3 linked regions of the Homo sapiens genome follow. The protein of the gene in region 1 interacts with the protein of each later gene in a biochemical or structural test. Each region holds a gene or a part of one and is shown on either strand. Other genes may lie near its edges.

Region 1 (3,702 bases):
CACGGCTCACTGCACAGGGATTTCTCTCTCCTGCAAACCCCCCGAGTGGGGCCCAGAAAGCAGGGTACCTGGCAGCCCCCGCCAGTGTGTGTGGGTGAAATGATCGGACCGCTGCCTCCCCACCCCACTGCAGGAGCTGAGGAGTGTGAGCGTGCCGTCATCGACTTTGTGGCTTTCCAGGACATCTCCATCAAGAGGCTGCAGCGGCTGCTGCAGGCCCTCGAGGCCCCGGAGGGCTGGGGTCCGACACCAAGGGCGGGCCGCGCGGCCTTGCAGCTGAAGCTGCGTCGGCGGCTCACGGAGCTCCTGGGGGCGCAGGACGGGGCGCTGCTGGTGCGGCTGCTGCAGGCGCTGCGCGTGGCCAGGATGCCCGGGCTGGAGCGGAGCGTCCGTGAGCGCTTCCTCCCTGTGCACTGATCCTGGCCCCCTCTTATTTATTCTACATCCTTGGCACCCCACTTGCACTGAAAGAGGCTTTTTTTTAAATAGAAGAAATGAGGTTTCTTAAAGCTTATTTTTATAAAGCTTTTTCATAAAACTGGTTGTAGTTGCACAGCTACTGGGAGGGCAGCCGGGGACACCTGAGCCGCCCGCTGTGCCCAGATCCCTCAGGCTGCCTGCCATCAGAACTGCTGCCCGGGGCTTCCCCTACCTCAGACAGACCCTCCCTGGGAGGATCAGTGGGGAGTGCCACCTCTGCCCCCAGTGGCTGTGGCACGTGGCAGGGGCCCCTGAAGCTCAGCGAGGGTCAGGGCCTGGGAGGGTATCATTGCTGGAAGAACAGGATGGGGCTCAGGCCAGCCCTAGTCGCCGGGGCCCACACTAACCCCCCACTTATGAATTCCTCCCACTCCCAACTCACAGGGGATTTCCCGAGAGGGGACCTGCCAAAGACCTCCTCCAGGCCTCCCATGCTTTCCGGGAAGTGAAGCTTCTCCCTCTCTGGGGCAGGCTCTGAAGCCTCCCGATGCACCCAGAGCAACCGGGGGGCTGCACCAGCCACTCGCCTCCCCAGCACGGCCAGGTTCCCGGGGCTGGAGGTCCCCCCCAGGTCCTGGGAACCAACCTGCAGAACACACACAGGGTCCCCTGGAGAGGACGCGGGGACTTCCAGGGCCCGACTCCTGTGAGTCACAGCCCCGCAGCTGCTGCGCCACCCCCACCCTGACTCATGCCCCTTCCCAGCAGCTCCTCCCAGGACCCCATGTCCTTCCCACATCCGCAGGAAGGGAGTGCCTGGACTCTCCAGGCCCACCTGGGGAGCCCCTCACCTGCCCACCAGCCCCTGAGCAGCCCAGTAACACCATCACCGTGTCCAACAGCCAGGAGCCTCCACCCTCCAGGAGGGAAGGGATGGACAGAGCCACACTCGCCGTCTTTATTTTGCACTCACCCTGGGTGACACTGGGCAGGCCGCTCCTGCCCACAGCCAGACTGAGGAAGAACACAGCACTCGGCAGGCCCAGTGGGGTCCGTGCAGGGAGGACCCCAGGACCAGCCTTACTCCCGAGCAGGGGACACAGGGCCCCACAGAGAACCCCTCCGGGAGGTTCTCTCCTGGCTGGGGGAGGGCTCTGGACCCCCACAAACACTCCCCAACTTGCGGGGCTGGGGCATAAAAACAGCCACTCCCAGCAGGCCCCCTCAGCTTTTTGCATCAGTCAGCTCCCTCCCGGGGGATTAGGGTGAGGTGAAGCCAGGCCCAGGCGTGGGGTATAGGTCTTCCCCCGCAGGCCTCAGCCCTGTCCCGAGGCTGCATCACAATCCAGGGCCCCCGCTGGCCTTTGGGAACATGGCCTGGGTCTTCCTCAAGGCAAGATCAGCCCCAGACCACTTCCGGGGTCACGGGGTCACGGGGTCACAGGGCAGAAGCCAGATGGCAGCCATGGCTGACGGGCCTCCTCCTCGATGGGGCGGAGACAGCCACGGGGTCTCCCGAGGGTCCCACAGGGCTGTCCTCATGCAGCCCAAGCCAGCCTGAGCACTGGAGCCCCAATTCCCAACCAGGTCTCCCTCAGACCCCCCAGAAAGGGCCTCGAAAGGCCGCCGCTGCGCCCTGTGGAAAGGCTGCCGCTGCAGGGCCTGGGCCAGCCGGGCTGCCAGACTCCCCTCCAAAGCCTCCGGATGCCTACGCTTTTCCAGACATAGAGGAAAGTTTGTCTTCGAGAAAACAAAGTAAATAGAAGAACCCCAAAGCAAAGCAAACCCACCCCCCAGATCAGCAGCATGGGAGCCAACAGGAGGCCACTCCTCCAGCACCAGGGGACCAGCCGTCCCGACGGCAGCGCGGCTGCGCCTACGTGATGTCCCTCTGCCGCGGCGGCCGGTGCACATTCCGCACGACACACTTCACCATCCACTCGATGCCCTCGCGCACCCCTTTGCTGTGAAGACAGCGGGTGTGAGGCGGGGGGTCTCGGTCCCCAAAGCCCCCGCAGGTGCAGCCCCCACTCACCCTGTGAGGGCCGAGCAGGCCTGGGTCAGGCAATCTCGCCTGCCGATCTTGCTGGTGCAGTCGCTGAAGGCCGTCTTGATGTCAGGGATTGAGAGGCACGTCTGGGGGAGGTAAGGCCGTGAGGAGCAGCCCCCACGTCTGGCCCTGTCCTGCCTGTGGGCCCGGGACTCTCAGAAGGGCGTATGCCCTTCACCCCAGGGAAACAGCCAGAGCTCCACCAGGGTCCCAGTGTCTCCCACAGAGACCACAGCAGTGAGGACCCTGTGCTCAGCCCGAGGCTGAACATGGCTGGTAGTGCCTGAGACAAACTAGACGTCCACACGGCTCCAAGGAGTCCACCCCCCATCCCCTCCCTGGGGGACACCCTGAGCCCCGAGGTGGGGCGCTGAGGACTGAGGCCTCCTGGGCAGTGGCGGAGGCAGGTCCCAGGGGCCCACACAGCCGGGGATGATGGAGAGGTGGGAGCCCTGCATCAGTGATGGAGGCAGTCTGCAGTCATGGTGGCTTCTGCTCACAACCACCTGCCCAGTCTTCAAAAAGCAGCCCTCCCCTCCCCTTTTCCTCCGAGGGGAGACCCCTGCCCCGTACCAGATGTCCCTCTTGTCGGCTGAGATTGTAGGGGAGGCCAGCCTTACAGGCTGGGGGCAACAGAGCCACCCCAGAGAAGGCAGGAAGTGAAGATTCACCTGGCCCTCTGGACGCCGGGCTGCTTCTGTGCAAAGCCACTCCAAGAGAACAGCTAGAACTCAGCGTGGCCAGTGCTCCCGGGGGCAGTGGCACCTCAGAGGGGTCTTGAGGGGCTGCCCTGGGGGTGGGGCTGGCACAGATGCCACCTCCAAGGGTAGCAGGAACAGGTAAGGGTCAGAGCTGACTCCCACCAGGGCCCCAGCATCACTTCTTTGAGCTCTGAGTTTCACCTGGGTGTCCCCACAGCTTGGCCACACACTCCTGAGACACGGCCGCCCTCCTGGGGAGAGGTGCCCTGCATAGCAGGAAGAGGCCTCTGGGCGCCTGCCCTGAGGTGGGAGAACCTCCAGGGCTGGCAGCAGCAGGTCTGGAGAGGAACCAGGCTTGGGAAGCTGCTGGGGGCAGGGCAGGCCTTGAGAATGGCTCTGTACCCCCTGGGCAGTCACTGGGCCTGGGGTGTCTGGGTGCACACCTGCTCCCCTTGCTGTGGGGGAGGCTGGGGACTCGGGAAGCTGCTGCGGGAGGCAGGGGTGGGGCTCACCTCCACATCCTGCTTGTTG
Region 2 (3,787 bases), on another chromosome or scaffold:
ACAAGTGTTCTTCAGGAGGTCGTTCTCTATTAAGAACTGGATCCCCTAGAAAAAGACAACAAAGACGCCAATGATGCTTTGCTGGGAAACAGTTGAAAAGAAGGGGAAAGGGCACAGGAAGAAATGGGTGTGGGTGCACTGGAATATTTAATAAATACTTGCTAAGTGACCTATAAAGCCGGGGAGTCACAGTTTAGGAACAAGGGCTTAGTGCATAACATTTGCTCTACAAAACGGCAACATGAACTGTAACGCTTGGAAAAAAACGTTTTTAGGGTCTATCTGAGCACTATAAAAAAACCCCATCTAATATGGACCACTTCCCGCTTCTTTCTCACTTACCTTTTTAGGGTCCATATTAAATTTTTTCCTGCCCATGGCTACCTGTTTGTTCCTCTGCATGTTTTTCCTGTAAAACAACCATCACAGCCATTTTAGTACTTCAGGCCATCGGAAAGGCTTGAAAGACTAATATGATTTCCACTGATTTACACAGGTTTTTGAAAGATTTATCCAGGAAAGCAACAGGCATAATCTGGTGGAACTATGAAAGGCCAACTGAAACCTGAAGCCTGAACCTGGCTCCAAGCTCCAAGCTCATTTGCTCCTTCTACCCTGGAACAGAGGTTTTCTTTATTTTTTTTTGAGACAGGGTCTCTCTCTGTCTGAAGGCTGAAGTGCAGTGGTGCTATCTCGGCTCATTGCAACCTCTGCCTCCTGGGCTCAAGTGATCCTCCCACCTCAGCCTCCCAAGTAGCTGGGACCACAGGCGCATGCCACCATGCTCACTGTGTTGCCCAGGCTAGTCTCAAACTCTTGGGCTCAAATGATCTGCCTGCGTCAGCCTCCCAAAGTGCTGGGATTACAGGCATAAGCCACTGTACCCAGCCAGTTTTCTTTTTTTAACATGATTTTTAAAAAAACTTTATCAGGGTAGGCCGGGCACAGTGGCTCATGCCTGTAATCCCAGCACTTTGGGAGGCCGAGGTGGGTGGATCACAAGGTCAGGAGTTCAAGACCAGCCCAGCCAACATGGTGAAACCCTGTCTCTACTAAAAATACAAAAATTAGCCAGGCATGGTGGTGGGCACCTGTAATCCCAGCTACTCGGGAGGCTGAAGCAGGAGAATCACTTGAATTTGGGAGTTGGAGGTTGGAGTGAGTGGAGATCCACCACTGCACTCTAGCCCGGGTGACAGAGTGAGACTCCGTCTCCAAAAAAAAAAAAAAAAAAAAAAAACTTTATCAGGGTATAATTTACTTATAATACTCCTACTGTAGGTACATATTTGAATTTTTAGTATACTTACTAAGTTGTGCAACATCACCATAATCCAGTTTTAGAACATTTTCATCTCCCCTACAGAATTCCTCACACCTTTTTACAGTTAATCCTTACTTCTACCTCCATCCCCAGGCAACTATTAATCTATTGTCTGTCTCCACAGATTTGCCTATTCTGGACATATCATACAAACAGAATCATAAAAGATGTGGATTTTCAGATCTGGCTTCTTTCATTAGCATAATGTTGTCAAGGTCATGGTGCTGGAGCGTGGGCCAGTACTACATGCCTTCTTGCTGCTGGGTCATCTTCCATGGTATGGATAAACCACATCTGTTTATCCATTCACCAGATGATGGACACTTAGGCTGTTTACAGTTTGGGACAATTATGCAGAAGGCTGCTATCAGCATTTGCATATATGTCTTTGTGTGGACACGTTTTCATTTTCCTTGGGTAGATACCCAGGGGTGGACACTGCTGGGTCATACGGTACATCTGTATTTAACTTTTTAAGAAGTTGCTAAATAATAGGCAGTTTTCTTGACTGTATCAGAATGAAAAATGCAGATTCACAGACCAAGCTTCTCAAAGTCTGGTCCACCAACCAGCAGCCTTGGGAGCATATCAGACGTGAAGACGCTCCGCTCGTTTATACATACACGTCACCTGGGGCCTCAACAAAACAGATTCTGACTCTATGTCTGAGAAGGGGCCTGTGCTTCTGCTGTATGTTTAACATGATCCCATGTGTGGAGTCTGAGTAGCAAGGCCCTGGACCGGCTGAGTAACTCAGAAGTACAAGGGGCAGAACCTAGGAATTTGAATTTTTAAAACCTCCTGCAGTAATTCTGGTATGCACCCAAATTTAAGAACCACTGCCATCAATATCAATAGTAATTTTATAATCTCCGAGAGCAAAAAAGTTGCTCGGAAATAAAATCATAAAATGTTATTGCCTTAAAGAACACATGTGTTCTCTAGCTAAATCCATGGAGGGAAGAAAATATTCCTAAGTGTTTTGAGGGTTGGTGTTTTTTGTGTTTTTGTTTTTGTTACAGGCAGGGTCTTGCTCTGTCACCCAGGCTGGAGTACAGTGGTGTGACTGTGGCTCACCGCAACCTTTAACTCCTGAGCTCAAGTGATCCTCCGGCCTCAGCCTCCTGAGTAACTAGGACTACAAGCAGATACTACCACAACTGGCTACTTTTTAAAATATTTTGTAGAGACAGAGTCTTGCTATGTAACCCAGGCTGGTCTTAAACTCCTGGCCTCAAGCAATCCTCCTACCTTGGCCTCCCAAAATGCTGGTATTATAGGCATGAGTCATCGCATCCAGGCTGTTTTGACCTTTTGAAAGGAACACCTGAAAACTGTGAGTAGTATCAGAACTTCCAGGTGTAAGATAATCTGGGCTCCCCTGTCAACAGCTGCCTTAGGAAACAAAGTCATGGGGGAAACACCATTTAATTTCAGCCAGAATGAAGGGTTATGACCAGGTATCTAGAAATTCCTATTTAACTAAAATGATTGTCTAATCATTTTTTTCTAAATCCAGGAAGATTACTTTGATCAGTATTTCCAAACAAATACCACAAGGAAGGCCTGTTTCATGGTTTCCAGTGTAAGTGGTGAGGCAGCGTCAGAGGTGCCCACAGAAGCAAGGGGTGAAACTCCTGGGAATGCTCAGCTTCCTGGGCCTCAGTCCAGTCCTCACCAAAGGCTTTCCTGCAGCCACCAGAACGCACACTCCCAGATATCCGCCAGTCACAGTCTGTGCCACATGACTGCCTGGGACACACACCAGAGATGGCTCCCTAATTTCATTAGCTAGCCAGCTCACTTCTCTATCTGCCCCACTTGGAGCCCCTATAGCTCTAGGCCTTAGGCAGCTACTTCTCTAAGTGGCTTTCCCCAGCCTACACAGGTCTGACACCCCAGTTAAGGTGTCCAAAGGAAAACAGCTTACTGCTACTGGATCGCCTTAGTTAACTGACGCGTATACATTTCAGAAAGTGAAATCCTGTACTACATGAGTATATTATTTCTGCTTGATTAAATAGTATTTAGGATCATTCCTACAAAATGCATCAGATCGTCGATGAGAAACATGAATTCTCTCCTATAAGAAAGTCCGAGCAAATGTAATGCCTGCTTGAGAAACAAATGCAGGGTGAGCCTGAGTACCCGTATGGATGGATCCTCAGGGATGTGCAGAATCACTTCCGTCTTGGCGCTTTCGATACCGGAAAACCATTTTAAGTTCCAGATTAAAAAATAATAATAACCTAAAGACTACTTCCTGACTCACAACTTCAGATGCAGTTCATGAGTTACAAGTCTTCCCAAATTCACTGGCTGAGTACTTTGGATGCACTCACGTTCCTGGTGTCTGCGTTTCCTTGCTGTTCTATGGTAACTGACAGAGAATTAATCAAGAGAAAAACAAAGGGCACACTGAATTCTGAATATGTGTGTGCAGACACCGGAATATACAGAAAG
Region 3 (2,590 bases), on another chromosome or scaffold:
ACAGAGGGGGAGCCTCCCAGGGGAGACACTGGGGATCTTATCCCAGGATGTGCTCTGCAAGGTAAGTACCAACCAGTCTTTCAGGGAAAAGAAGGGCCTACAAAAGGACACTGTGAGTTACTCAGAGGAATGGCCTAGTCATTGCAGCCATCAGAAAGGTCCTCCATGTGGATCCTGGCTGGATGTATATGGGTACTTCCTAATTCTACTCTCCTTGGCAAAAATGTCTGAGTCAAAGGCTCAGATTTATATTGAAAATATTTATTAGAGGGCCAGCAAATTTTGCTCAAAATGAGATCTAAATTATCAAGAATTTGGATTTGGTGCAAAGACTATGGAAGCTAAAATGGGGTGAGGGGTGAAGTACCTACAAAAGGCAGTAATCCTTGCCCCTCAACCCAATACAGACGGAGCCCAGAGCTCAGAGAATCAGGCAGGGAGAAAAGGGGTGGGGACCCTGGAAGGCCAAGGAAACGAGACCCCTGAGGCAAAGAACTGGACTTAAGGCAGGGGATGAGGAGGAGCTGCCGGCTCTTCCCCAAAAGAGATGAGGCAACAGGTCTCTGGAGTCGAGAGAAGGCGGCAGGACAGGGGTGGCTGGTGACAAAAATAAAAACATTTGTCTAAGACCACAGGGGCTGGGTCAGGGTCTGCAAGCCACTATGTCTGTACAGGAGTCTACATACCATCCTTCACTGGGAAGAGCGGGGACGAAAGTGAGGGTAGGGTTAGGGAGCAGGAGTCAGTGATGGGGGTCTCTCCAAAACCTCAGGGATCTATTCAGCCCTCCTCCTCAGGGGCTGCCTAGGAAGACACATTGGAAGAAAGGTACCTTCCCCTAAGTCCCTGGAAAAGTGGTCACAGAGGGTTTCCACGTGGTTGCCTATGGTCACGTGACCATACAAACCAAAAACATTAGGTGGAGATTTCTGGGAAAAGGATGGGATCCTTCTTTGCTCTAAATATATGTGGAAGCAAATGCTCCTAGCAAGGAGATTTCTAACTCGGGCTGTGTGGCAGGAGTATCCCTGCCCTAGAACCCAGGGTTTGTTGTGGCTGGGGTGAGGGACAGGAGGGCCAGTTGCTGCCCTGGAGGAGTTTGGCACTGTGGCTCTCTGGAGTCATGTCCATGTGCCCCAGAGAAACCCTGTTGGGCCACTGAAGAGAAATGTTTTAAGAACTTGGATTTGTGAGTCGGGGCTCAGGAGGGGAAAGTACAATCAGCAGGGCCCTGTGCCCTTTCAGGAGAGACTGTAATCTGGGAAAAGACTAGGGAAAGAAGAGGGAGAGAGGCACTGATTCCTGCAGGGCCTAGAGTAATACAAAAGTTGTTGGTGAGGTGGGAGTCCTTCCCAGGTACTGTTGACAGCAGGATGGTCTCTCCAGGTTCACATGGGGTAAAATAAGGAAGAAGCGAGGAGAGAAGGTGGGGGTGCGTTAATTCAAGTAAAAAAAAAAGAGCAAGAAGAAGAAGGGTGGCAGGAATGTGGCTGGGCCTGAGAACCAAGCCCCCTCCCACCCCCTCAGGACCCCCCAGAGTTTCCCACTCCCCCTGCTGTTGCACAGTCACACTGAGGTCTCAGACTGCAGCCTCATGACAAACTTGTGTGACTTGGGATCCACAAATTCCTCGGAGAGTTTGAAGAATGGGACCTTCTTGGTGCTGACCACCAGGCTGAAGTCCTGGCGTTTTAAGAGGAAAACGATGCCATCCTTGAGGCCGTTGGTCACCGGCTCCTCGCTCACCAATGTCCACTGTTTGGCCAGCCAGCGTTCCTTGTGGTACTGGATGGTAGGTCCAGCCGCCAAGTATCGCTCCAAGAAGGCCTGAAGTGGAAAGAAGGGGCTGCATAAGAATCTCTGTCATCTACCCACGGTCCTTCATCCCCTAGGTCATAGTTTCCAAAGACAAGAAGGACGTCCCTGAGCTCACTCTATGCATATGAACTAGAACCTCAGAATGTTACAGCAGGAAGGGGCCTGAGATCATCTGCTTCAGACCCTCATTTTATAAATGAAGAAGCCGGAGTGCACAGGGGGATGTGGCTCATCAGGTAGGACTGAACTCGGCTCCCCTGACCCCCATCTGCTGCTCTTCTCCCTGCACCAGGCTGTGACCTGGGCAAGCCCTCCCTCATTCTTCCTTCCTTCCCACACAGCTTGTATGATTCGTGCCAAGCAGGTCTGCACCAGGAGGGAGCCAAAGGTGTCAAGGTTAAAGTGCAACATCTTTAGTTACCTGCTCACCAAGGGTGGCTCAGGGAAAGCAATTCTAGGAAGCTGGCAATAGAGTTGAAGGTGGGCAATGGCTCAAAATGACACAAAGCCAAGACCAGCTAGTGGAGGTGAAGAGGGTAATGGAGGTGAAAGTGGGCCTTTGGATCTGGTAATTCCGGAGCCCTCATAGAGATGAGAAATAAGTCTCAGCCATCCCCAAAATGGTCCTGAGGACTCCCTTCTCCTCATCTACCTAAAGACTTCACCCCACACAGATGGGGCAGGTGGAATAGGAATGAGAGAGAAGATTATAAAAAGGAGGTGGTGAGGAGAGAGAAATGAGGTGGACAGTGAGGAAAGTAGTGAGAGAATA

The links. The genes of interacting proteins can lie anywhere in the genome.
Region 2: the proteins of ARFRP1 (region 1) and CYTH1 form a complex in vitro, tested with the Homo sapiens proteins (one study listed by BioGRID).
Region 3: the proteins of ARFRP1 (region 1) and VANGL2 form a complex in vitro, tested with the Homo sapiens proteins (one study listed by BioGRID).

What each region holds. Positions count from the first base shown.
Region 1 is NC_000020.11:63,698,147-63,701,848, forward strand, and holds the end of ARFRP1 (ADP-ribosylation factor-related protein 1), read right to left. Parts: coding exon 3,684-3,702; intron 2,557-3,683; coding exon 2,456-2,556; coding exon of another isoform or gene 2,452-2,455; exon of another isoform or gene 2,385-2,451; coding exon 2,297-2,384; 3' UTR 501-2,296; downstream 1-500. Other genes in the region: TNFRSF6B (tumor necrosis factor receptor superfamily member 6B precursor), read left to right, coding at 134-417. UniProt on the Homo sapiens protein: Trans-Golgi-associated GTPase that regulates protein sorting. Controls the targeting of ARL1 and its effector to the trans-Golgi. Required for the lipidation of chylomicrons in the intestine and required for VLDL lipidation in the liver.
Region 2 is NC_000017.11:78,702,196-78,705,982, forward strand, and holds part of CYTH1 (cytohesin-1), read right to left. Parts: intron 410-3,787; coding exon 343-409; intron 46-342; coding exon 1-45. UniProt on the Homo sapiens protein: Promotes guanine-nucleotide exchange on ARF1, ARF5 and ARF6. Promotes the activation of ARF factors through replacement of GDP with GTP.
Region 3 is NC_000001.11:160,424,355-160,426,944, reverse strand, and holds part of VANGL2 (vang-like protein 2), read right to left. Parts: intron 1,828-2,590; coding exon 1,567-1,827; 3' UTR 1-1,566. UniProt on the Homo sapiens protein: Involved in the control of early morphogenesis and patterning of both axial midline structures and the development of neural plate. Plays a role in the regulation of planar cell polarity, particularly in the orientation of stereociliary bundles in the cochlea.